Linked DNA regions of Homo sapiens. The protein of the gene in region 3 interacts with the protein of the main gene of each other region in a pairwise test. Each region holds a gene or a part of one and is shown on either strand. Other genes may lie near its edges.

Region 1 (9,157 bases), on a different chromosome or scaffold from region 3:
GACGCAGGTTCTTCCTAGCTCTTCACTCTGCCAGGCTCAGGGGTGGCTTCAGCTGTAGCCAGCCTGCAAGATGCCTGGAGCAGTTCTAGCTGCCGCATCCCAACAGGATGATGTCCAAAATAGCACCAGCACCTTTTCTTTGGAATGACGTAACCTTTCCCAGAAGCCCCCGGAGGACCTTCTGCCAACTCATCTCCTTAACCCAGCAGACACAGCCATTCTAAGAGTGGGCCACTGTGCTGGGGACTGGTCGGACCCTCTACTAACACCTCATTAGCAGAAGAGGAGACACAGACATGCTCATTCCCAGTGTAAAAGCTGAGGATGGCGTTGCCTGGATACGACGGAAGCACCTGTTACAGTGGGCTCTGTCCATACTGCAATGTTGGCGGTGACCAAGGGCTCCCGGAAACTGGGTCTCGTCCTCTAGAAAGGGGCCAGGCAGGCGTAGGTCAGCAGAGTGTGTGAGAATCTTGAAGATGAGGAGGCAGCCCTGGCTCCCATGTGAGGCAAACCAGAGGAGGAAGTGGCAGTATGCTGCTCAGCCAGCTGTGCCAAAGAGGCAGAGAGGGAGTAGGGAGAGAGAACAGGAGACAGAGACGGGAGAAGAAAAAAGAGGAGAGGAAGGGAGAGAAGGTGGGGGACAGTGGGCATAGAGATGTCTCGGGGAGGGTGGATTAGTAATAGCTGCTGACAGGTGGCTGGGCCAGGTGAGCAGGAGCTGACCAGTCCCCAACACAATGGGAGCACTCTCGCAGTGGCTGTGTCTACGCTAGGTTAAGGAGACAAGCTGGCAGAAATCTAAGGCCCATGTCTTCCTTCATATCCAGATCCTAAATGCCCTGGAGGAAGAAATAAACTGGCTGGATGTTGTGTTATAAATGATGCCGTGTTATAAATGACGTTGTGTTATAAATGGTCCCAAACTTTCACTTTAAAATATGCTATTTACTTTTTTTACAGTTATAAAAATAATACATTATCAAAATAGACAACTTACAAAACACAAAAATCCACCAAGGGAAACACAGCAAAGGCCCCTGATCCCACCATCTAGAAAGAACGAGAGTCTTTCTGGCCCGAAGGCACCAGCTCTGATGAAGGCACAATGAGGAGATGCCAGCACAGACTTCCCCAGACCTGAGGTGACGCTACAAACGAGCGGTGCACAGCCACACACGCAGGTTTAGAGTTCGGGAGGAGGAGACCTAAGTCCTGTCTTCAAAAACAAAAAGCAGGCCGGGAGTGGTGGCTCATGCCTGCAATTCCAGCACTTTGGTAGGTGGACGTGGGTGGATCATTTCAGGCTGGGAGTTCAAGACCAGCCTGGCCAACAAGGCAAAACCCCATCTCTACTAAAAATACAAAAGTTACTTGGGCGTGGTGGGGGGCGCCTATAATCCCAGCTACTAGGGAGGCTGAGGCAGGAGAATCACTTGAATTCAGGAGGCGGAGGTTACAGTGAGCCGAGATCGCGCCAATACACTCCAAACTCGGCGACAGAGTGAGACTCCGTCTTAAAAGAAAAAACAAAACAAAAACAAAGCGAGCCACCGTGGAGATCCACCTGCCGCTGCTCCCGCGGGGGTCACTTCTCTGGCTCCTGCAGCCGGCAGCTTAGGCAGCACAACACAATCCACTAGGACATTCGGGAATGGTTTTAAAACCAAAGTGGATTCATGGCGACCCCTTAATAATCTCCTGGACTGCTTTCGGACATGCTTTCTGGAACAGGAGGGGTGTGGAGAGCCAGCGTGTGGGGACTTCGGTGACCCTGGGGGGGTACACAGGAGGGTGTGTGAACACGTGCCATCACATATGACCACCACTCGCCTCGTGGGGACCCACCGAACCATCCACTCTGCTCATCTGTGCCCACCCCACTGCCTCTGTATGACGCCTCGTAAGGACAGAGACAAAAGAGCTCCTAGGAGAGGGGAGAATGCAGGAGGCTATACGCATGGTTCTCAAAGCTTCTGCAAATATAACGGCGGCCTAACATTTGGTCTTTGGTTCAAAATATTTCCCCCCTTCACCATTTTTTAATGCTGCAAAGCTCATCGCCCCTCTAGGGACAGTGCAAAGGATATGTCTGGGTCCCCTCAGGATCAGGTTGGCCTTTCTTCCTCTCAGCCAGATGCCCAGGTAAACTGGCCACCACAGACTCCCCCGTGCTCCGTGAGGCTTGGCAGGACCTGTGCGGCCTGGGAGGGAGGGCAGGGACTCGCCTGTGCATTCCGGAGGCGGCTGTGCCTGGTGGCAGTGAGGCACAGCCTTAGGGCGGAAGTCCTAGCTCTGCTGCTGGGTGCCCTTAGACCAGGCAATCCCTTCGCGTCTCCCCTCCCTCCTCTGTAAAATGAGAATAACACCCATCTTGTGGGCTCCTGAAGGGATTAAATAACACACGGGAGGCACGTCCCGCACCGCCTGGCACACAATCGGCCTCGACATGCGGCACAGCACCCGTCCAAACCTCCCATGAGCCTCATTCGGGGCCAACCATCTCTCTCATTGCAAATAATAATAATAATAAAAATAACTGCCTTCAGTCCAGGCCTGGTGACTGACCCTATCCAGAGCCAACTCCAACCCAGAACCAGCTAGGCCTGTGCTGCCGGAGAGGCTGTCAAGTCAATGCACGAGGGCTCTGCCAGGGACGGCTTCAGCCCAACAAAGGGCATGTGTGGCGAGGCCCCAAGACGGGCACCAAGGTGACACAGGCAGAAAACCCCAGGGAAGGAAGCCCTCCCACGGCCGAACCGGAACCCTCACCCTCCCAATGAACAACTGCCTTCCCAGCACCGTCTGGCCCTTCACCGCATTTCTAAACACGTCACACACACATCTGTTCCTCGACGTTCGGTCTCTGTTCATCCATCCTCCTCAAAATGAAAGTCCGGAACCTTCTGCACTAATTTTAAAGTCTGGCTGAACATTGAGTAACGAACAAAACTGAAAACACAAAAGAGATGGTATTTTTAATCTTGTGCATTTTTACTGAAAAATGAGAAGATAACTCTATCTCTAGCTATAGCTTTTCCTGTCTATGTGGCCAGCCCATAAATGAGTTCTAACTCCTTTTCTCTGGACTGTCTTCAGTTTTCCTGCACTGCGACTCAAGGATGAGGCGCCTCTACGGACAGTTCCGCGGCGCACGCAGCCCCAGGCCATTGCCGCAGCGGCCCCGGGAGTGCGCTGCCCCGCCTGGGAAAGGCGCAATCAGGTGCTCCTAGCAGGAGGAAACACACAGTGCACGCACCTGTTTAAATTTTCCTCTGATCTTGTCTAAGTCTTCATGGAGTTTATCGTAAGTAGGGTCATCATAAGGGAATTTCTGGATCATTCCAATCAATGATTCTAAGACCTTCATCTTTCTGCTGTAAAGCACAGAAATACAGACTCTCAGTCATGTGCACACAACAGGCTCAACTTACACAACAGCTATGCTGCTGGCTTCCTGAAACCCAGCAGGTGCGCTAAGAATGCCTTCGTTCAAAAGCTGGATGATTATTTTCTCATTACACGAAATCATATTTATTTACCTAGCAACGAGCTTAGGCCCATACCCAGTGCCTCGACAGCAAGTGTGTGCCTAGCTTACAGACACGCCTCCATTCCGACCACGGGGCCAAGGGGCTGAGGCAGCCAGAAGCCCTGCTGACTCTCGAGGTCACACATGCAGAAACAGACAGAACTGGGCAAGAGGGACTGGGGCTGGGCACGAGCAGGCCTGCTCTGGGTCTGGGGATTTTCCAGGATCTGGATTCTTTGTGCTCAAAGCCTTCCAAAGTTCAGCTGCAGGTAAACCAGCAAACCCCTCCCTCCAAAGGCGGAAATCAGTACTGTCCCCTCCCCAGGGAGGAAACAGCTTTGCTGGGGAGGCAAGGAGGTTCTGCAGAAAGGCTGTGCACTCAGGAGACAGCAGCCCTGGGCATGACATCTCCCCAACACCTCTCTACCTGCTTTCAACCCTGCTGGCCTCATCTGTAAAATGGGGGGCATCCCAGCCTCCAGATGGTGAGAAATTAATTTCTGTTTTGTTTTTTTTTTTTTAATGGGGAGAGTAACAGCAACCTCACAGACTTTCAAGAGGATTAAATAACTGACATGGGCCGGGCTCGGTGGCTCACGCCTGTAATCCCAGCACTTTGGGAGGCCGAGGAGGGTGGATCACCTGAGGTCAGGAGTTCGAGACCAGCCTGACCAATATGGTGAAACCCTGTCTCCACTAAAAATACAAAAATTAGATGGGCGTGATAGTGTGTGCCTGTAGTCCCAGCTACTCGGGAGGCTGAGACAGGAGAATTGCTGGAACCTGGGAGGTGGAGGTTGCAGTGAGCTAAGATTGTGCCACTGCACTCCAGCCTAGGGGACAGAGTGAGAATCCGTCTCAAAAAAAAAAAAAAAAAAAATTGACATGAAGCTTGGACTCCAGCACAGAGTAGGTGCTCAATAAATGTTAGTCTCTTGGTCTCTTGGTTTCCTCTGGATCCTAGAGATCAGGGCTCTCACCTGCAGGGGTTTAAAAATAATCCACACATGTGTACATCTCGTGGGGCCAGGTCTTTTCAATGAACCACAGGTGGTCCTGAGAAGCATGCTGCCTCTATGCCGCATTGGACCATGTGAGTGGCCAGAGTAGGCAAGATACTCGATTAACGGGCATTTTAAAGAACTGACAGTTAGGATGAATCAACAGCAATTCAAAGCAACCAAGACCTCCTGTGTACTTGCAAACAGCTGGTGCTCCTGGATACAGAGAAGAGCAAGTTTGCCAGCAGCATCCAGTTTACAAGAGCTAACCATGGCTACCTCTCTGAGAAAATACAAAACTGTGAAAGGTCAAAGCAAGTCAGTTTTAGCAACAAAGCACCTGGTTTCCAGGGAAACCAAAGGGAGATGCCAAAACGTGGGAGGTGGCTGTATGCTAACCCGATGCAGAGGACCACGCACTTTCCACTTGGCAAGCGGTTACTTTTCTGGTCAGCGATGCTGCTCAGACACACCCAGCCGGGCGCACCATCAGAGGCGGCACACGTCAGGCAGGTGTGAGCAGCTCAGGGCTAATGAAAGAAAAGTGATGGTGCCAGAGCCCCCGTGCTCAGCCCCGGTGCGCGCTGGTCTGCAGGAGGGTTTCACCAGACTGCTGAAGCCGGGGACAGAAGTGTCACGCAGTTTACCGGAAAGCTAGTTACTCAACGGAAAGCACCATCTTTTGGCCTGAGATGCCGCTCTCCGTGGTTTCTTTGGTGTTACAATGCCCAGCATTTTGCTGAATGACAATGCGGTGGCAGGTGTTTTTCTCTTAACATCCTTATTTGGAAAAATTTACAGGTAAAACATGCAATATCAGCCCTTCACCATTTAAAAAAAAACAAAAAACAAAAAAAAAAACCTGACATGTAAGATCTAAACATCCATGAACCACTGCTCTACAATAAAGCCTTAGGTTCCAAAGAGACCTCTGGGTACTACTGGATGGGATGAGGGCGGCTGCGAGGGGGGTCTGGCAGGGCTTCCACCAGCCCCTCGTCAACCAAAGCGGTTCTTCTCTGTTAGCTAGACTGAGTGTGCTGCTTTCAGACGTCAGCAAACCCCTGCTCTGGGGTAAGGGCTGGCAACCTCCTGGGATGGGACCACTGGCACACAGCGGAGCACTTCTCCAGGAGCCGGCAGATTCTGCCGCTGTGGGAGAAGGGAGACAGGCGGAGAACTCCAAGAACACACATCCTTTTGTGGCCTGGAGTTGAGAGCCAGGCTCAGCTTTGACTGCCACCTAGTGGTAGCACAGGCTGCCAACAGCGATTCCCCTGGGATCCCCAGCTGCCGGCCGCTGCCTGAGAACCAGGAGGAAAATGTCCTCAAGTGCCCCTCTGCTAACCCAGAATCCCATCGACTCCCAACTGCTGGTACAAACGGAGCAGAAAGAACTACCCGTATCAGTTGCAAGCATCCTCATTCTTAAACATTTGAATATTCAAGATATTCAAGGTATTTCTAGAAATTCAAGATATTTCAAATAAAAGCACAAGTCACGTAGTCAGGGAGAGAGTTACCCACTCTCCTTGTGCCCCTCCCACGCTAGGCAAGGCCACCAGGTGTCAGAATGACGCAGAGCACCAGCTCAGGTCCCGCGCTTGCTGCTGCCCATGAACAGCAGAGTATCCAAACCATCTCAAGGGTTCATTTCCAGCTTCAGAATGAAGATAGATAAAGCAGGGTCACATGGGGCTTCAGTAAGTACAATGCAGGAAGAAGAGTTTTTGTTTGTTTGTTTGTTTTTGAGAAGGAGTTTTGCTCTGTCGCCCAGGCTGGAGCGCAGTGGCATTATCTCAGCTCACTGCAACCTCTGCCTCCTGGGTTCAGGCAATTCTTCAACCTCAGCCTCCCGAGTAGCTGGCACTACAGACACATGGCACCACGCCCGGCTAATTTTTGTATTTTTAGTAGAGACAGGGTTTCACCATATTGGCCAGGCTGGTCTCGAACTCTTGATCTCGTGATCTGCCCGCCTCGGCCTCCCAAAGTGCTGGGATTATAGGAGTGAGCCACTGCGCCCGGCCGAGAAGAGTTTTTAAAGGCTAAAAACAATTCAAATGACAGCTAACACTTACTGAGTGTTGACAAGTTCCAGAAAGGAGTTAAACACATTTAAAGGCATTTTCTTGTTAACAGACTTAGTTGGCTACATTAAAAAACTGATGACACTGGTGTCCTCATCTCTGAGCCCAAGTGATACAAAACTGTTATAATTTGTTTATTAGAAGCTCAGGGGAAAGGTGAATGAGAAAATACAATCAATGTCAACATTATTTTATTGGTAGGGTATCTAAAAGCCACATGGTGCACTAATGACTCCAGGTAAAAGGCAGGAGCATAGAACTCTTGAGAAGCAACAACAGCCAGTGTTCACCAAACACCTAAAATGTGCCTGGCACTTTCTATTTAGTATTTCCGTTAAATCTCCTAACAACACTCAAGCTTGACACTGATAATTTTCTCCATTTTACAGATGAGGAACAGACAGATTGATTACTCAAGGGCATGCTGGTAACCCATGGAACTAGAACTCCTGGTTCCTACGCTGAGAAAGAAAGACATCTCCACCTTTACCTGTCCTTCTCAGTGGTGCAACTGTGCAGTAGACATTTCCATGCAAAAGCAAAACCTTGGTAGCACCCGATCTGTGAATGTGAAAAATATTTAAGAGTGAAATTAATAAGCAACTAGCTACACTTTCATTACCAAGATCTCAAAACAAAAGGTGGGGGCAGAAGGCAGCGGTGCTTCTCACACTATTGTTCTGGAAGCACCTGTTGAGCATTAGGCAATGGAAATTAGGAAATTAGGTCATCGGTGGGGCAGCCAGCCTCCCAGATGCCCCAGTCCTCATCTCCTGGTACCCATGCCCTGTGCAGGTCCCTCGACACTCCACCAGGGTGGCTTTCGTAACCAACAGAATGTGGAGGAACAGCACAAAGCTCCTGAGTCTAGGGATAAAAGCCAGTGTCACTTGCCTCACCAGCTCTCTTGGACCACTCGCTCTTGAATGTCACGAGGACACACAAGCAGCCCCATGGAGACGTCCATGCCCACAGTCAGGTGACAGCACCACCTTGGAGGCAGATCCTCCAAGCCCAGTCAAGCCTTCAGGTGACACGGCTCTGGCTGACACCCTGAGCCAGGACCACCCAGCAAAGCTGCTCCTGAGTTCCCAACCCTCAGAAACATGTGAGATCATCCATATTTGCTGTGTTAAGCCCATGAATTTTGTGGTGATCTGTTTCACAGCATCGAACATCCAATATAGTCATAACTGCCTCAACTCAGACTTTGCCACTAAGGGCCACTTATCTGTAAGGGCCAATCTAGGACAAAGGGCAAGAAGAGAAAAAAAAAAATCATAAAGTTAATGAAATTTCAACGTAAACATAAATGGAATATGTTCACATGACAGAGGGCACCCATTCTTTGGCTTAGTACATGAGCCAGCACCATGACACTCCCAAGTAAACTAAGGAGACCAGGGACTTGTTTTCTTTTATCCAGCATGCATAATTTAATTGTATCTACCTACAGCAAAATGCACTCTTGGTTCTGTACTAAGAATATTTCTCCAGCAACAGTCCATCTAGTCCATTAACTCCCATGCAAAGGCACTGTGATTTTTTTTGTTTATTTTTTGGAGATGGAGTTTCATCCTGTCGCCCAGGCTGCAGTGCAATGGCACGGTCCCGGCTTACCACAACCTCTGCCTCCCAGGTTCAAGCGAGTCTCATACCTCAGCCTCCCAAGTGGCTGGGATTACAGGCATGCACCACCATGCCCAGCTAATTCAGTATTTTTAGTAGAGACAGGGTTTCACCATGTTGGTCAGGCTGGTCTCCAACTCCTGACCTCAAGGCGATCCACCCACCTCAGACTCCCAAAGTGCTGGGATTACAGGTGTGAGTCACCGCGCCCATCCGGCACTGTGATTTTAAAAGGCCTGACAATTCTTACTCCATCACACTGAATATCGAAATAAATTATAAATTGTAAATGAAGAGGCTTCATCTCCAGATGGGGGTTCCCACTTACCTCAGACCCGATTTTGGCTCCATGCAGCGTGCCATGCTGCCTTCCCTCCATCACACCCAAACTACTGCCTTCTTCATAGCCTTCCCGATACCCTTCCCCATGAAACCTGTGAAGAAGAAGCATGCTTCATCAAATCAACAGGAGAAAGAATACTTTCTCCAGAAAAACTTCTCTCTCTTGTATTACCCGGACCCAGTAAGACAAACCAGAGTAAAGGAGGAAAAGCCTAAAATTCAAGTCAGAAGACACAGATTCCAGTCCCAGATCTACCACTTCCTATTTGCCTCTGGAAGTCACTGTACCTCTTGTAGCCCAGTTTCTTCATCTACAACAAAGGGCTAAATTAGGGATTCCCAAACCTGATAGGGTACTAGAAACACACAAGGAAAATTCAAAGATATTAACTCAAAAGCCTCACCCCCAGAGATTCAGTACGTCTGGAGCAAGGCCCTGGAATCTACTTTTCTTTCTTCCTTTTTTTTTTTTTTTTTTTTGAGACAGGGTCTCTGTTGCCCTGCCTGGAGTGCAGTGGTATGATCACAGCTCACTATAGCCTCAAACTCCTGGGCTCAAGCGA
Region 2 (8,710 bases), on a different chromosome or scaffold from region 3:
ATGTCTAAGGGAATGGAGTGTGGGCCACTTTAATAGGCAAATGTCTAAATGGTCCATTTAAAGAGAGGCAGGAAAGCAGGGAGTGCAGTCCGCAAGGCAGGAGAGATCCCTCTAAGTTCTTGTCACTGGCCACCAGCTTGAGCCATCTGGGTGTAATGTAGAACTGGAAATTGTGCCAAAGATGACTGAGCCCTGCTTTGGTATGAGAAAGTTAAACTTGTATTCAAAATGGATGCTGAGCAACATAAAATTGTAAGAATTCTCTATATATCTCCGACATCAATCCAGCACCAAAAGTTTTATTCTAATATTCCCCCTTTCTGGGAAAGGCAAAATAATAGAAACAAAATCCAGATCAGTGGTTGCTCAGGGCTGTATGAAGGAATTTTTGGCATGATAGGGCTGTTCTGCATGGTACAGTAGTGATGGGTATACAATGCTATGCATATGTCAACACCTACACAATTCTACAAAGAGTGAATTTACTGTATGCAAATAGGAAAAACATCCAGGATGTTGGAAGAATCCAACATGGGATACAGATTGTGACAAATGAATCTAAACTGTATTAAAATTATTCACTTGGTAAACTATCACTCCTGCAATCCTAGCGACTCAGGAGGCTGAGATGGGAAGGTGGTTTGAGGCCAGGGTTCCAGTGTAGCCTGGGCAACACAGTGAGATCCTATCTCCAAACAAAAAAAAAAAAAAAAAAAAAAAAAGAAAAGAAAAAGAAAAAAAGCTAGGCATTGCCATGCATGCCTTTAGTCCCAGATACTGGGGAGACTGAGGTAGGAGGATCTCTTGAGCCCAGGAGTTCGAGGCTGCAGTGAGCTATGAGTATGCCACTGCACTCCAGCCTGGGTGATAAAGTGAGACCCCCAACTCTTAAAAAACAAAACAAAAACCCACCACAGTGAAGGGGGTAGAGAAGAAGGAACTGGCTTTAGTGACTTTGGAAAACAGTGTGTTGACTGAATAAGTAAGATTGGGGATGAAAAGAATGATAAAAATGCTGTACTTTAGTTAGAAATCTGTTTCTCCTAGGTATGTGGATTAGCAATTCTGAAGCAAATTTTCATGTATACTAGAGTTAAATTAGTGCCTGTATTGTGGCTAATGAGTGTCAGGTTTCTCAATGTCAAAGAAAATACAAACAAACATTTTGGGAATTTTTATATTAAAAATTTACAGTTATAAAAACCAAATCACATTTAGTTATATATTTAATGAATCATTTTTATTGCAAAGGGTAAATTACATGAAATTGACAAAATTTAGTCCATGTAATATCTATCAAAATACATACATGTAAGTGTGTGTATATTTATATATGTATACAGTACAGTTTTCACAAAAAGCTTCAACATTCCTAAGAAACACAGACATAGTCATTCTGGTACAATATGGATTTAAAATAAGTTCATGGTAATCCTTCCTGATGCCAATTTTAAAATGAAGACCGTCTAAATTTTTCTGACCAGTTATTAGTTGCCCTGCCTCTCGGAAATGTGTTTAAACTTTTCTTTCAATTATTTGATACCTTTTGCCCAAGAGATTACTATCTCTCTCTTTTTTTTTTTTCTTTTAAGACAGAGTGTTGCTCTGTCACTCAGGTTGGAGTGCAGTGGCACAATTCCTGATCACTGCAACCTCTGCCTCCCAGGCTCAAACGATCCTCCCACCTCAGCCTCCCCAGTAGCTGGGACCACAGGCACATACCACCAAGCTTGGCTGTTTTCTTTTCTTTTTGTATTTTTAGTAGAGTTGGGCTCTTGCCATATTACCCAGGCTGGTCTTGAATTCCTGAGCTCAAATGATCCACCTGCCTCGGCCTCCCAAAGTTCTGGGATTACAGGTATGAGCCAGCATGTCCGGCCTGAGATTACTCTCTCTTATAAGAAGTTTCATAAGTTTTTCCACTGAGGAAAGTGATGCTTGTTTGATTTCCTCTAAATTTACTTCTTCACATTCGAAAGGAGACTCTTTTCTTCCTTAGAACTTGAAGATTCAGTGTGAAAGGGCATTTTTCTTTCTTATATTATTAAAAAAGTTACTTTTTAAAAAGTAACATTTTTATTTTTATTTTATTTATTCATTTTTGTGAGACGGAGTCTTGCTCTGTTGCCAGGCTGGTGCAGTGGTGCAATCTCAGCTCACTGCAACCTCTACCTCCTGGGTTCAAACGATTCTCCTGCCTCAGCCTCCTAGTAGCTGGGAGTAGAGGTGCGTGCCACCATGCCCAGCTATTTTTGTATTTTTAGTAGAGACAGGGTTTCACCATGTTGGCCAGGATGGTCTTGATCTCTTGACCTCATGATCTGCCTGCCTTGGCCTCCCAAAGTGCTGAGATTACAGGCATAAGCTACCGTGCACAGCCAACATTTTTATATTTTATATAGAGATGGGGTCTTGCTACATTGCCCAGGCTGGTCTCAAACTCCTGGGCTCAAGCAGTCCTCCTGCCTTGGCCTCCAAAGTGCTAGAATTACATGCATGAGCCACTGTGTCTGGCCAAAAATGTTAGTTTTCACGTTTATAGCATGCAAAGTGTTATTCTCTTCCACTTTAATTCACAAAGGCTCTTTATGTCTTCCCACTTTTATCACTCTTAATGAACCCACCCTGTATCTACTAAAATTCTGGAGGAGTCATGGGCAGAATTACAGAAGAATTCTGGTCATATGACAGTTTCATAAAAGGACAATATCATAATGTGCAAGTTCTAGTAAAATGCAAATCTTATCTTGTTTCACCAGCTTACTATTTAGGCTTTTTTTTTTTTTTTTTTTGGCCTATTCTGACTTTGGATCTTAACTATTTTCAACTATCTTTTTGCTTGTAGAGGCATTCTTTGGTTCCTAAGAGGTATTAAAGTGAGGGATTACTAACGGTGAAGCTACTTTGGCATGCAGGATGCTGCTGTGTACATATATACTAGTGTATATGAATATAAACCCTTGTCTTTTTTTTTTTTAATAAAAGTGAGTTTTCATCTGAGGTGCTTGGAATGATTCACAAACAACTTGGCACACTCTTCTGGCCTGTTTACCCCCATTGAAATGTTATTTTATAAATTACATCTTAATTCACAGAATTTTTTCTTGATAGTATAAGAAATTCTCAAATATTTTCTATAGGGGCACACAACTTTCTATTTAAATGTCTAAGAACTAAATTTTCTGTCGCCTTCCGAAATCCTATTCTTAAAATTAAAAATATAGGAAAGCACAAATGTTTCCTTCATTAGGTCAATTTTTTCACTAATTTCTTCATTTAAAAAGTGAATTCTTTTCCTGTTTTTCCTCATTTCATCCAATAGTTTCCATTTCTACTAACATGGTGTGGCAGAAAGAACATGGGTTTTGGAACTAGATAAACCTGAGTTTGAATTTTGATTCTGTCACTGTAGGTAGCTATGTGGCCTTGGCTCAGTTTCTCATCTCTAAAGTGGAGACAAAAATACCCATGGTTTGGGTGGCTGGTCAGATTAAATAAAAAATATATGCACAAAATTTGGTACATGGTAGGCATTCAACATGTTAATGCATTTCTCACTACATCAAGTGTTTCAAAACTAATTCTATGGAGGAACCAAAATTTAGTAGTGTTATTAATAAAAGGCCACATGTTTTCTTAAAACTCTTAATTTCTAATTTTGATTCATCACTTTTTTTTTTTTTTTTTTGAGGCTGGGTCTCACACTGTCACCCAGGCTGGTGTGCAGTGGCGAAACACAGCTCACTGCAGCCTCAACCTCCCAGGTTGAAGTAATCCTCCTGGGCTCAAGTAATCCTCCCGCCTCAGCACCCCAAGTAGCTGGGACTACAGGTGCATGCCACCATGCCTGGTTAATTTTTGTATTTTTTGTAGAGACAGGGTTGCCCAGGCTGGTCACGAACTCCTGAGCTCAAGCCATCTGTCTACCTCGGCCTGCAAAGTGCTGGGATTACAGGCATAAGCCAACGGCCCTGGCTTGATTCATGGCATTTTAATGAAAAATTTCATGTTTTTTCGGTATGCCAAAGTGCCATGTATGAAATATGAAATTTGGAAGAATCGATGTAATTGTACAGCCATAGGAAGGCCTCCCTTCACCATACAAAAAGGTAACCTTTGCTCTATTGCTGCCACCAAGGGCCATTTTGTGGGATGTGGTAACTTTAAGAATATTTATTACAATTAAAAAAATCAAAATATGCCATACTTCATAAACATCTTATCAGTAAGTTAGAGGTTTAATAAAGAGGTTCAATAAACAGAAATTTTATTTAACATATATTTCAACATGAAATCTATAAATTGCAAAGGAGCACTGTGAATTCTTTGGAAAAACGTTTGTTTGCTCTACTCACAAGCTTCATCCTTGTGGCATGTATTCAGAGCTAGGTTATGTCCTGCTTTTTGTTTAGGCAGGCATAATGTCTTTCATGGTATTCTCAGAACTCTGTTAAACTTCACTGCTTTGTTAAATGTCACTGCTCTGTTAAACTTCACTGCTCACAAAATCTGAGTTAGGACAAATGTTCATGGGGGTTGTTGCTCACATGTTTTCCTATGGCTGGTTTTCACAAAACGGTATGCATCTAGTCCTAGGGAAGTACATGAAAGGTCTTCTTAGACGGATTCTGCTGGAATTATCTCTTGTCTCTGCAGCTGCTGGTTCTATCTTCTCTCTTCTCCTGGAAATCAGAAAGAAGAAACAAGCATGCAAACACATGCCAAAACACTGCAGCTACAAACTAGGCTGACATGTCAAATAGTGGCATATTCAACACATCCTGACATCATTCTCCCAGGTAATGAGTTTAAGATTGCAGAGGACTTTATAGATTATTTACCTCAACCCTTACATTATGTTCATCAGTACCTTTCTACTCTAAAAGGTAAAATTCCCACTTTGAAAATGTGCAGTTTTACAATATCATTAAAAATTCAGGTTTCAGGCTGGGCACAGTGGCTAACGCCTGTAATCCCAGCACTTTGGGAGGCCGAGGCAGGCGGATCACGAAGTCGGGAGTTCGAGACCTGCCTGGCCAACATGGTAAAACCCTGTCTCTACTGAAAATACAAAAATTAGCTGTGTGTGCTGGCACGTGCCTGTAATCCCAGCTGCTCGGGAGGCTGAGGCAGGAGAATCCCTTGAACCTGGGAGGCGGAGGTTGCAGTAAGCTGAGATTGCTCCACTGTACTCCAGCCTGGGTGACAGAGCAAGACTCCGTCTCAAAAATAAATAAATAAATAAAAATTCAGGGTTCAAAGTGAAATGATAAATTCTAATTTATTTGAACCTGCATTTAAAGCTCTTTATTTAAAATTTTCTTCTAGATAAATTCTGGGTACCAATAAAACTCTATAGTGTTGTATAGCAGAAATGGGAGTTCTTGGGGGTGAGCTTGTGAAAACAATGTCCGACGGAACTAATGATGAAAGGGCCTGGAACCCACATAGTTAGGCACGCCAGAAGGAAACCTATGGGAACATTAGCCCCTGCTTCCCTCTCCAGTTTTTTCTCTCCCTCTTCATCCTGAATCTGTTTCATTTAGTCCTTGGAAGTTCCTTTCTCCTTTTCAGTCTCTGAAATAATATTCATTTGGCTAACTCTGAAGCTTTTTTCAGAACTCAGAATGTTGTTCATTTCCCATATGTTCATATGCCTGTGAAGTTAGTGCTTTTTACACTGATTTATAAGAGACCGCTTATTTTTATGTTTCCTCTATCAGACCGTATCCATCAGGAAAACAAAGCCATTATAAGAATTATGGGACTAAGGTACTTATCACAGGAATTACATTTTACCAAATATAGGAGCTGGGAAAATGAGGGTCTGGAAAAGGAAAATTGAAGGATCAGAGTATATGGGGCAAGGGATAAAAATGTAGCCTGCTCTACTGTGGCGTGCCAGTCAGGATCAGAGAAAGGATGACTGAGCAGGCTGTTTGAAGCACTGGTGTGGGTAAACAAATTGAAGCTTGCAGGGAAATCTGATAATCCAAGCATGCCCAAGCTGCTGAAGTGGAACTATGAAGGGGGAGCTTGCTGGGGAAATCTATGGAAACTGCCGAATGTGGAACGACTCTGCTTTTCTGAAGCTACTGTCTTCAGGTCTGCAGCCCAGTGCCTGGTGGTCGGCCTAGGGCTGCTGTTGGTCAGCAGGGCCTGTAGTCATGAAGATGCTATAGAGTGGAGAGGAGTGAGCTGCTGGGCACCTTTGTATTTGTCCATCACTGACTAACCATGATGATCTTCTAACAATAATGGCTTCTGACCACTTCTGCCTTCTTCTTTTGTGGCCAAAATTTCTAACTGAGAAATGTGAATCCTAGCCTTAGCAAAGTTGGCTATTTTGTGCTCATGATGTATTTTTAGAATGTAGCAAAGTTTCTGGCACATAGACGGTACTTAATATTTAATAAACGGAAGAAGAAATGGAAGACCACTTATACAATGCAAATGAGAAGCAAAGCAAAATTTGTCAGAGACATGAAAGTATTTCATAAATCTCTTTCTTGACTATAATAGTTAATTCAACATTTATGTAGTACTGCTGTTTTATTGATAGATTGGTGACTAAGAGAAGTCCAGCAAAAGAAGAATTTGTCAGTGTATGTCCAGTACTGTCAATGGGAGAGGGTACTTGGACTGACTACTTCACTGGCTTTCCTCATCAGTGCAGGCTACACTTTGATCCCCTTCCCCACGAACTCCCAGATGGACAAAGGACAGGGGACCAGGAAGGGTAGGTGACTTTCTTGTTTGTCATCACTGTTTCTAGACCAGTGTTTCTCATCCTTCGCTTCCCATTTGAATTCTTCAGAGAGCTTAAAAATATCTAAATGCCCAAGCTGCCCTCAGGTATGACCCAGGCATCAGTATTTTTTAAAGCTCTCCATGTGATTCCAATGTGTATCCATGTTCATGTTTCTATGTGAAGTTAGTGCTTCACATAGAACTAACTTGTGTTTCAAAGTTAGTTAGCAGCATTGGTATTACCTAGTCTCATCCCAGACCTACTACATTAGAAAATGTATTTACCAAGATCTGTAGGTGGTACAAAGTACACTAAAGTTTGAAAAGTGCTGTTCCAGATCATTTTTACCAGAACCCAGTGCCAAGGCAAAAAATAAAAAAAAAGATTCAGTAATGTCTAGTTTTAACACTGCATGTTCTCACTCGTAAGTGGGAGTTGAACAATGAGAACACATGGACACAGGGAGGGGAACATCACACGCCAGGGCCTGTCGGGGGTGGAGGGCTAGGGGAGAGATAGCATTAGGGGAAATACCTAATGTAGATGATGGGTTGATGGGTGCAGCAAACCACCACGGGACATGTATACCTATGTAACAAACCTGCATGTTCTGCACATGTATCCCAGAACTTAAAGTATAATTAAAAAAAAAAAAAACTCTCAAGACACAGAAAAGATATGGATACTTACCGATGTACACTTCTTAGCAGTTTTTCAATTAGGATACACATCTAAAGTTATTTGAAGATTGGTACACTAATACCTGTTTCTGCTCCCATGACTGATGAAAATACTCTGAATATAAAAATGTTTATATTCTGTAGATAGCCCAGAAATAATGTTGTACTCCTATAACCATCTGATCTTCAACAAGGTTGACAGAAACAAGCAATGGGGAACGGATTCCCCATTCAATTAATTGTGCTGGGATAACTGGATAGCCATGTGCAGAAGATTGAAGCTGGACCCCTTCCTTATACCATACACAAAAACATCAACTCAAGATGGATTAAAGACTTAAATGAAACCTAAAACTATAAAAACCCTGGAGGATAACCTAGGAAACACCATCCTGGACATAGGCCTTGGTAAAGATTTCATGATGAAGACATCAAAAGCAATTGCAACAAAAGCAAACATTGACAAATGGAACCTAGCTAAACTAAAGAGCTTCTGCACAGCAAAGTAAACTATCAACAGAGTAGACAGACAACCTACAGAATGGGAGACAATATTTGCAAACTATGCATCTGACAAAGTTCTAACATCCAGAATCTTTTTAAAAAATCTTTTTGAGATAGAGTTTCACTCTTGTTGCCCAGGCTGGAGTGCAATGGTGCAATCTTGGCTCACTGCAACCTTTGCCTCTCAGTTTCAAGCGATTCTCCTGCCTCAGCCTCCTGAGTAGTTGGGACTACAGGTGCACACCACCACGCCTGGCTAGTTTTTTGTATTTTTAGTAGAGACAGGGTTTCACCATGTTGGCCAGGCTGGTCTCGAACTACTGACCTCAGGTGACCAGCCAGCCTCGGCCTCCCAAAGTCCTGGGATTACAGGCATGAGCCACCATGCCTGGCCTAATATCAAGAATCTATAAGGAACCTAAAATGAATTAACAAGCAAGAAACAACCCCATTAAAAAGTGGGCAAAGAACATGAACAGACATTTTTCAAAAGAAGACACACATGTGACCAAGAAGCATATGAAAAAAAGCTCAACATCACTAATCATTTGAAAAATGCAAATCAAAACCACAATGAGATAACATCTTACACCAGTTAGAATGGCTATTATTAAAAAGTCAAAAAATAGCAGATACTGGTGAGGCTGTGGAGAAAAGGGAATGCTTATACACTGCTGGTGGGAATGCAAATTAATTTAGTCATTGTGGAAAGCAGTGTGGCAATTTCTTAAAGAACTTAAAACAGAAGTACCATTCAACCCAGCAATCCCATTAT
Region 3 (6,135 bases):
ATATAGTTAATGATTTTGAAACATCAAGCATTACAGACTGTAAAATTAATTAAGAACTTTCTGTATATGATGCCAAAGATACATTTAAAACATATACAAGAAGATGCTTTTTCCTGAGTAGAATGCAAACTTTGTTTTATATTAACCTTCTGTGAATTTTCAAAATGTAAAATACCAGGACTTTTCCACATCAGACAAAAATCAGGAATGTTCACCTTCACATCCAAAAAGAAAAATTTTAAAAGACAATTTCAAGTAGTTCAGCAAGAATGATTTAAAATCTGAAATGAATGGCCAAAATTTTAAATTATCAACAGACAGTTCAATTTGATGGATCTCTCAGTAAACTTCAGTTTGAAACAACAACAAAAAATGCTGTTTACTAAATCATAAAAGATAATTCCAGGATATTATCCAATTTGAAAAATAAAAAATGTAACCCGTAATAAATAAGAAAAATACAAGAGAAAATCAACCTTTATTGGAATCGAGAGAATACCATGGACTTTAAAACTTCCTAAATCAGTAGCTTATCCTATATTACCATGTGTAGAAAACTGCAACTAATTAATGTAAGGTAGTTTTTATTAGTTGCATAACTTAAAAATATGAGGAAATTTTGGAATATATCTCTAAAACCACGGAATTGTCACTGAAATATATATTTCTTGAGACAGTGGGCAAAGTTCCCATTTATGGGAAATACTTTCCTTTTTTCACACACATGAAACTGAGAAAAATTATATCAAATGAGAAATATTTTTCTCTAAAATAATCTTAAGTACCCCAATAATGCAATACTGGGGAAATGTAAATTTTCAAAACTCAGATTTGAAACAGGTTATTATTAAACAAATATACATAAATCTTATTGTTTGGCAAGATTTTTCAAAAATTAGAGAACTAGTTAAACCACCATACTGTCCTTAAATCATATTTCAAACTTACATACCTAGTGCTTTTATGTTCTGAATGTAGAGTCTTCAATTTAATGACAATCTAGACTGAATGCTGTAATATACAAGCAAGTCACAGTTCACTTCAAACCAAAAGAAATAATCAGTCTTCTGTTTTTATCAAAATCATGATATTAAGATAACTATACAATTTATCTGTGACCAGTGATGGACCCAGAGAGTGTTGTGTTATGGCATTCTGTGGAAAGTCTTTGTTCCTTCTTTACTTTTGGCTTCTTCTTCTGAAACATCTTCTTTATCCGCCTCTTGTTCTTCCTCCAGTTTTTTCAAAGGTTGAGCAGATTCTGATAATTTTTTTGAAGGGTATGGCTGTGGTGTGTGCCTTTCTGAAGGACAAAGGCAACCTGCCACAAATATCATACAGAGTCCTAGTAACAGTCCAGAATGCAGAGTTGCTAAAGGAAAAACAGCATATGATCCCCACACTGGCAATCCAATGTCTTCAATAAAGTAGTTATGGCAAGTCCTGATCCACGTAGATAGCTGAAAGAGTGCTGACGTACTACTCATCTGAACAGAACCTGAAACAAACCATGATGAAACGGGTTCAATACTCTTCCACTCTTTATCACTTATAAAGTTTATGAAGTCCTTCTGAGTCCTTGGACCCTGAGGATGCCTAAATTCACCATCTTTACAATGATAAATAGTAGGAAGAACAGTTATTGTAAACTGTCCAGTCAGTCCTGGCTGCTCTGTGACATCTACTTTCACAACATTAACCTCAGATCTTCTCCCCATTCAGCAAAACTTTCCCATTCCGGTTAATGGTTTTGACAAGCAGGGCACCACGGGGCATAAAATTGTATCATCCAGCCTCCTTCCAGCAGCTCTCTCCAGTTCTTGTCTGTGATGATGCGTACGTTGCTCTGCCGCCTGTGGGTCCAGGGAGCACCCCCAAGCAACAGTACCAGGACTGCCAGCGGAACTGCAAGACTCCTGGAGGGTGCCATGTCTGCCGCTTGCCCACCTCACAGCAAGCGTGGCGGCCCAACACTAGGTTTTTTAAAAACTGTGACTATCAGTGTTTTAAAAATTGCCCGGTAACTCTAGACTTCAAAAGTGGGATAAGTAATGATAAACCAATAATAAACTTAGGAGAAGCATAGTCTGCTTTAGTTATATTGTTATGCCATATTATGGTCAGTAACACAGTAAAGGCCTAATTCATCTGCTTTCTAAATTGGTTCTGTACTTTTCTAGAAAAGCCTACATGTATATACTTAGTTACAGCTGCACTTCTCCATTACTTATTTTTAGGAAGGTTATAGAGATGGAATAGATGCTGGCAAAGCAGTTACTCTTCAACAGGGCTTCAATCAAGGTTATAAGAAAGGTGCAGAAGTCATTTTAAACTATGGACGACTCCGAGGAACATTGAGGTAATTTTTAAAGTCTAAATGCTGAATCATTTTAACCTCAATACTACTGGAGGATGTTTCTGTATAAATAAAGTGTTTAAACTGAAATGCTTTTCCTGGTGCTAAATACACTAAAGCGTGTCGCAGATCATAGAATTATATTGCCTTCAAAAAGTCAAAATCTTTATCAGCTCATCTACTTTAATGTGTGAACTACATATTGTCTTTTCGTGCAAAGAAATGGTAAGAAGATGTATACTTCTGCTACCTGAACAATTATCTATCTCATTGAAAGGTCTTCAGATTTTGAATAAAACTTGTAGTACTTCCACACAGTATGACAGACCTCTAGACTAGAAGTACATGATGAAAATAGTTGGTAATTAAGATAAAATTGATTTAATTTACTTTAGTCCTGAACATTGAATACTTGTCAGGATGCCATTGCAATAATGGCATATATCGGAGCCAAATGGTCAAATGATACACAGAGCCAGGAGCCTAGCAGCCTTGTCCAGTTTGATGCTCTATACCAAGCTTGTCCAACCAGTGGCCTGCATATCACATGTGGCCCAGGACGGCTTTGAATATGGCCCAACACAAATTCATAAACTTTCTTAAAACAATATGAGCATTATGAAATTTTTTTCATGATATTTTTTCTTTTTTCTTTTTTTTTTTTTTTTAACTCATCAGCTATCATTAGTGTTAATGTATTTTATGTGTGGCCCAAGACAGTTCTTCCAATGTGGCCCAGGAAAGCCAAAAGATTGGACACCCCTGCTTTATACCCTTTACACTGTCCTTGGTAGAGAAAAAAAAAATGCTTCAAAGAATCGCTAATTTTAAAGAAGAGTAGATGATAAAAGTTACCAAAACAAACCGAAAAATTTATTGTATTTGGGATTTTAGAAAATCCAACTATTAGGAACCAGAATTTAGTCTGCTACAGTAGGAAAACAATGTGAATATTCACATCATCAAGTTGATGTTACATAACCTTAGAAAGCTACTGCTGAATCTTTTATATCAATGGATTCTATTTTTAAATACTTTTCATAATAATCATTATTTTATGACATGACTATAATATTAAATCTGTTAGGACTAGAAGAATTTTTACCTTTTTCAAGGAAATTGTTAGTAGTTCAGCAAACAGTTTCTACTCTGTGACATAAGCCCAGGAAAGTGAAGTCTCTTGAAAACTTCTTTTCTCTAACCTTCATTCTTGATGGCAAGCAACTATGTGCTTAGAACGATGGTTTTCAACTTTGGTTGCACCTTAACTCTGAAACTTAAAAAAAAGATACCCCCTGAGATTCTGATTTAATTGGTGTGGAGTATAATCTGGGCCTTGATAGGGGTCAGAGCTCTTCAGGTGATTCTAATGTGCATCCATGATTGAGAATTGCTAGTTAAGAAGCTGTTTAATGTCCTTAAAGAAGAAACTAATTTTTCTTTCTCGGAGTTGTATTCATCTTCAACAGATATTACATAGTCATAAGAGAAAAATATAAAATCAGGAAAAGCGTATATAGAGTTATGAAAGAGGGGTTATGAATTATAAACAGTTTTATGATTAAGTCCAATCGTTTAATTGTTATTGAAAGATAGTCTTATATTTTTAAGTCCTATTTTGCTATTTAACCCTTGTTTATACTTTTGTTCAGTGCTTTGCTCTCCTGGTGTCACCTTCATAATAATAATTCAACTTTGATCAATAAAATAAACAATCTTCTGGATGCAGTTGGCCAGTGTGAAGAGTATGTGCTCAAACATCTGAAATCAATCACTCCACCGTCCCATGTTGTAGATTTATTGGACTCCATTGAGGATATGGACCTTTGTCATGTAGTTCCAGCTGAGAAAAAGATTGATGAAGCTAAAGATGAAAGACTCTGTGAAAATAATGCTGAGTTTAACAAAAACTGTAGCAAGAGCCATAGTGGGATAGATTGTTCATATGTAGAATGTTGTAGAACACAGGAGCATGCACATTCAGAAAACCCAAGCCCCACATGGATTTTGGAACAGACAGCCAGTTTAGTTAAACAGCTGGGCCTATCAGTAGATGTATTACAACACCTCAAACAACTATAAAATTACCTTCCCTTTTCTAATGAAAATAATGTTCAGAACATTTGGTTTCCTAACAATCGAAATTTGTACTGGTTTCTGCATCAAACACCTCAACTGTAGGGTTACCCTTTATGGAAGTTTGAAATTAACACTATTGTCTTCAAAATTAACACTATTAAATGTAATATAAGCCTTTTTTCTTTGTCACTGGTAATTTTTATGTAGTTTTAAGATATGGTCAGAAATTTCTACTGTCATTGACATTTCCAAACTTGTGGTCAAAATGAAGTGTTTTCAGACTCATTAGCAAAAGTGAACAAGAATTAAACATATTTTGTAAGGACCTACCCCTACTTCTACCTCCTGTCACTATTAGGTGGTCAGGACCTCACCAAACCAAAGTTATAAAAATAACTTAATAGTTAACGTAAATATAGACACACAGACAGATATATAGATATAGATATGTAGATATATATTGAAATTAAGAGACTGTGAGAAACTGAAGCAGTGTTTATGCTGTTGATTAAATGGTTAACAGCAAAATACTAAAATGTGTTTTAGTTTTGTGTTAATTAAAAGTAAGGACATTCAGTTTTATGAAAAACATAGAAAATATATTTTATGCTAAAGTCTAAGGAAAATGCCTACTTAGTTTTTCTAAGTAGTAAGGAGTTAGTAATATTGCCTAACAGTGTGCCAGATTATTTTAAACTGCAGTATATTTCATATTCACATAGGAGTAAAACACTGAAACCACTGACTTCTATATTACCTTGAGGTAATATTCTTAGTCTAGCATGGACAAAATTAGATTCAAATTTTTACTCCAGGATCTAAACTCAGAATCAGGAGAGGATTTCTCAGCACTTTTATTCACCTGAAACACAAGTTTATATGAGATACCTGACTTCAAAGGCACTGAAATAATTGTCCCTCATTGGTAGCCTTAATTGCTCTTTCACCCCTATTTATACCTACCATCTAAGCTGAAAGACAGGCATATTGAGATGAAGAATCTGACAAAGTATATCTTTTCAAGAGATTAAAAATGTACACTGTACTATGACCCTCCTCAAAGTTCACAGAAGAACATTAAGAAATTGAAGCAACAGATTTAAAATCAGAAAGCCATATTGAGTTTCAGGATTTATTAAAACCCCCGCTGAAGATACCAGTGCCATTTGACAGCTGGCTAAAAAAAGCTCTTCGATCTCTCCAGGTGTGAAGACTGTTTTTCAGAGATTTACTAGTTTGTCTTGTTAATATATGTTTCCATGTTTATGGACACAGCCCAAATCTCAACTCCACATGGAATATGGGTATTATAAGCAGCCTCTAAAGTCTTTTTAATGTTGCTGTGCCGTGCATATACATATGAAATACCTCTAAGGATGCATCTCAAGGCCACCCTAAGTAAAAATGTCATGGGTGTGGTAAATCTTGAGATTTTTATCTAGGCTTTTCCTGATAAGATTCCCTGAAGATAACACCCATTGCCACCATTGGCTACATATGGTGTGTTTGTACAGATTTTTGTCGAAAATGAAATCAGGAGAATTAGCTAGTTGAGACTATTGGATTGAAAACATCTCTCGAACTTGTTTTGCCTTTTAAAAAGTACAGAAGGGGCCAGGCACAGTGGCTCACACCTGTAATCTCAACACTTTGGGAGGTGAAGACAGGAGGATCACTTGAGTCCAAGAGTTCAAGACCAG

The links. Proteins that work in one complex are often made in the same cells at the same time.
Region 1: the proteins of YAE1 (region 3) and LTO1 interact in binary tests that used the Homo sapiens proteins (3 or more experiments, as listed by UniProt).
Region 2: the proteins of YAE1 (region 3) and CEP126 interact in a two-hybrid assay, tested with the Homo sapiens proteins (2 studies listed by BioGRID and IntAct).

The regions. Positions count from the first base shown.
Region 1 is NC_000011.10:69,664,636-69,673,792, forward strand, and holds the end of LTO1 (protein LTO1 homolog), read right to left. Parts: intron 8,687-9,157; coding exon 8,581-8,686; intron 7,185-8,580; coding exon 7,114-7,184; intron 3,378-7,113; coding exon 3,260-3,377; intron 2,953-3,259; coding exon 2,884-2,952; 3' UTR 928-2,883; downstream 1-927. UniProt on the Homo sapiens protein: The complex LTO1:YAE1 functions as a target specific adapter that probably recruits apo-ABCE1 to the cytosolic iron-sulfur protein assembly (CIA) complex machinery. May be required for biogenesis of the large ribosomal subunit and initiation of translation.
Region 2 is NC_000011.10:101,993,571-102,002,280, reverse strand, and holds the end of CEP126 (centrosomal protein of 126 kDa), read right to left. Parts: intron 4,683-8,710; coding exon 4,638-4,682; 3' UTR 1,219-4,637; downstream 1-1,218. UniProt on the Homo sapiens protein: Participates in cytokinesis. Necessary for microtubules and mitotic spindle organization. Involved in primary cilium formation.
Region 3 is NC_000007.14:39,568,269-39,574,403, forward strand, and holds the end of YAE1 (protein YAE1 homolog), read left to right. Parts: intron 1-2,237; coding exon 2,238-2,359; intron 2,360-4,008; coding exon 4,009-4,438; 3' UTR 4,439-4,613; downstream 4,614-6,135. UniProt on the Homo sapiens protein: The complex LTO1:YAE1 functions as a target specific adapter that probably recruits apo-ABCE1 to the cytosolic iron-sulfur protein assembly (CIA) complex machinery. May be required for biogenesis of the large ribosomal subunit and initiation of translation.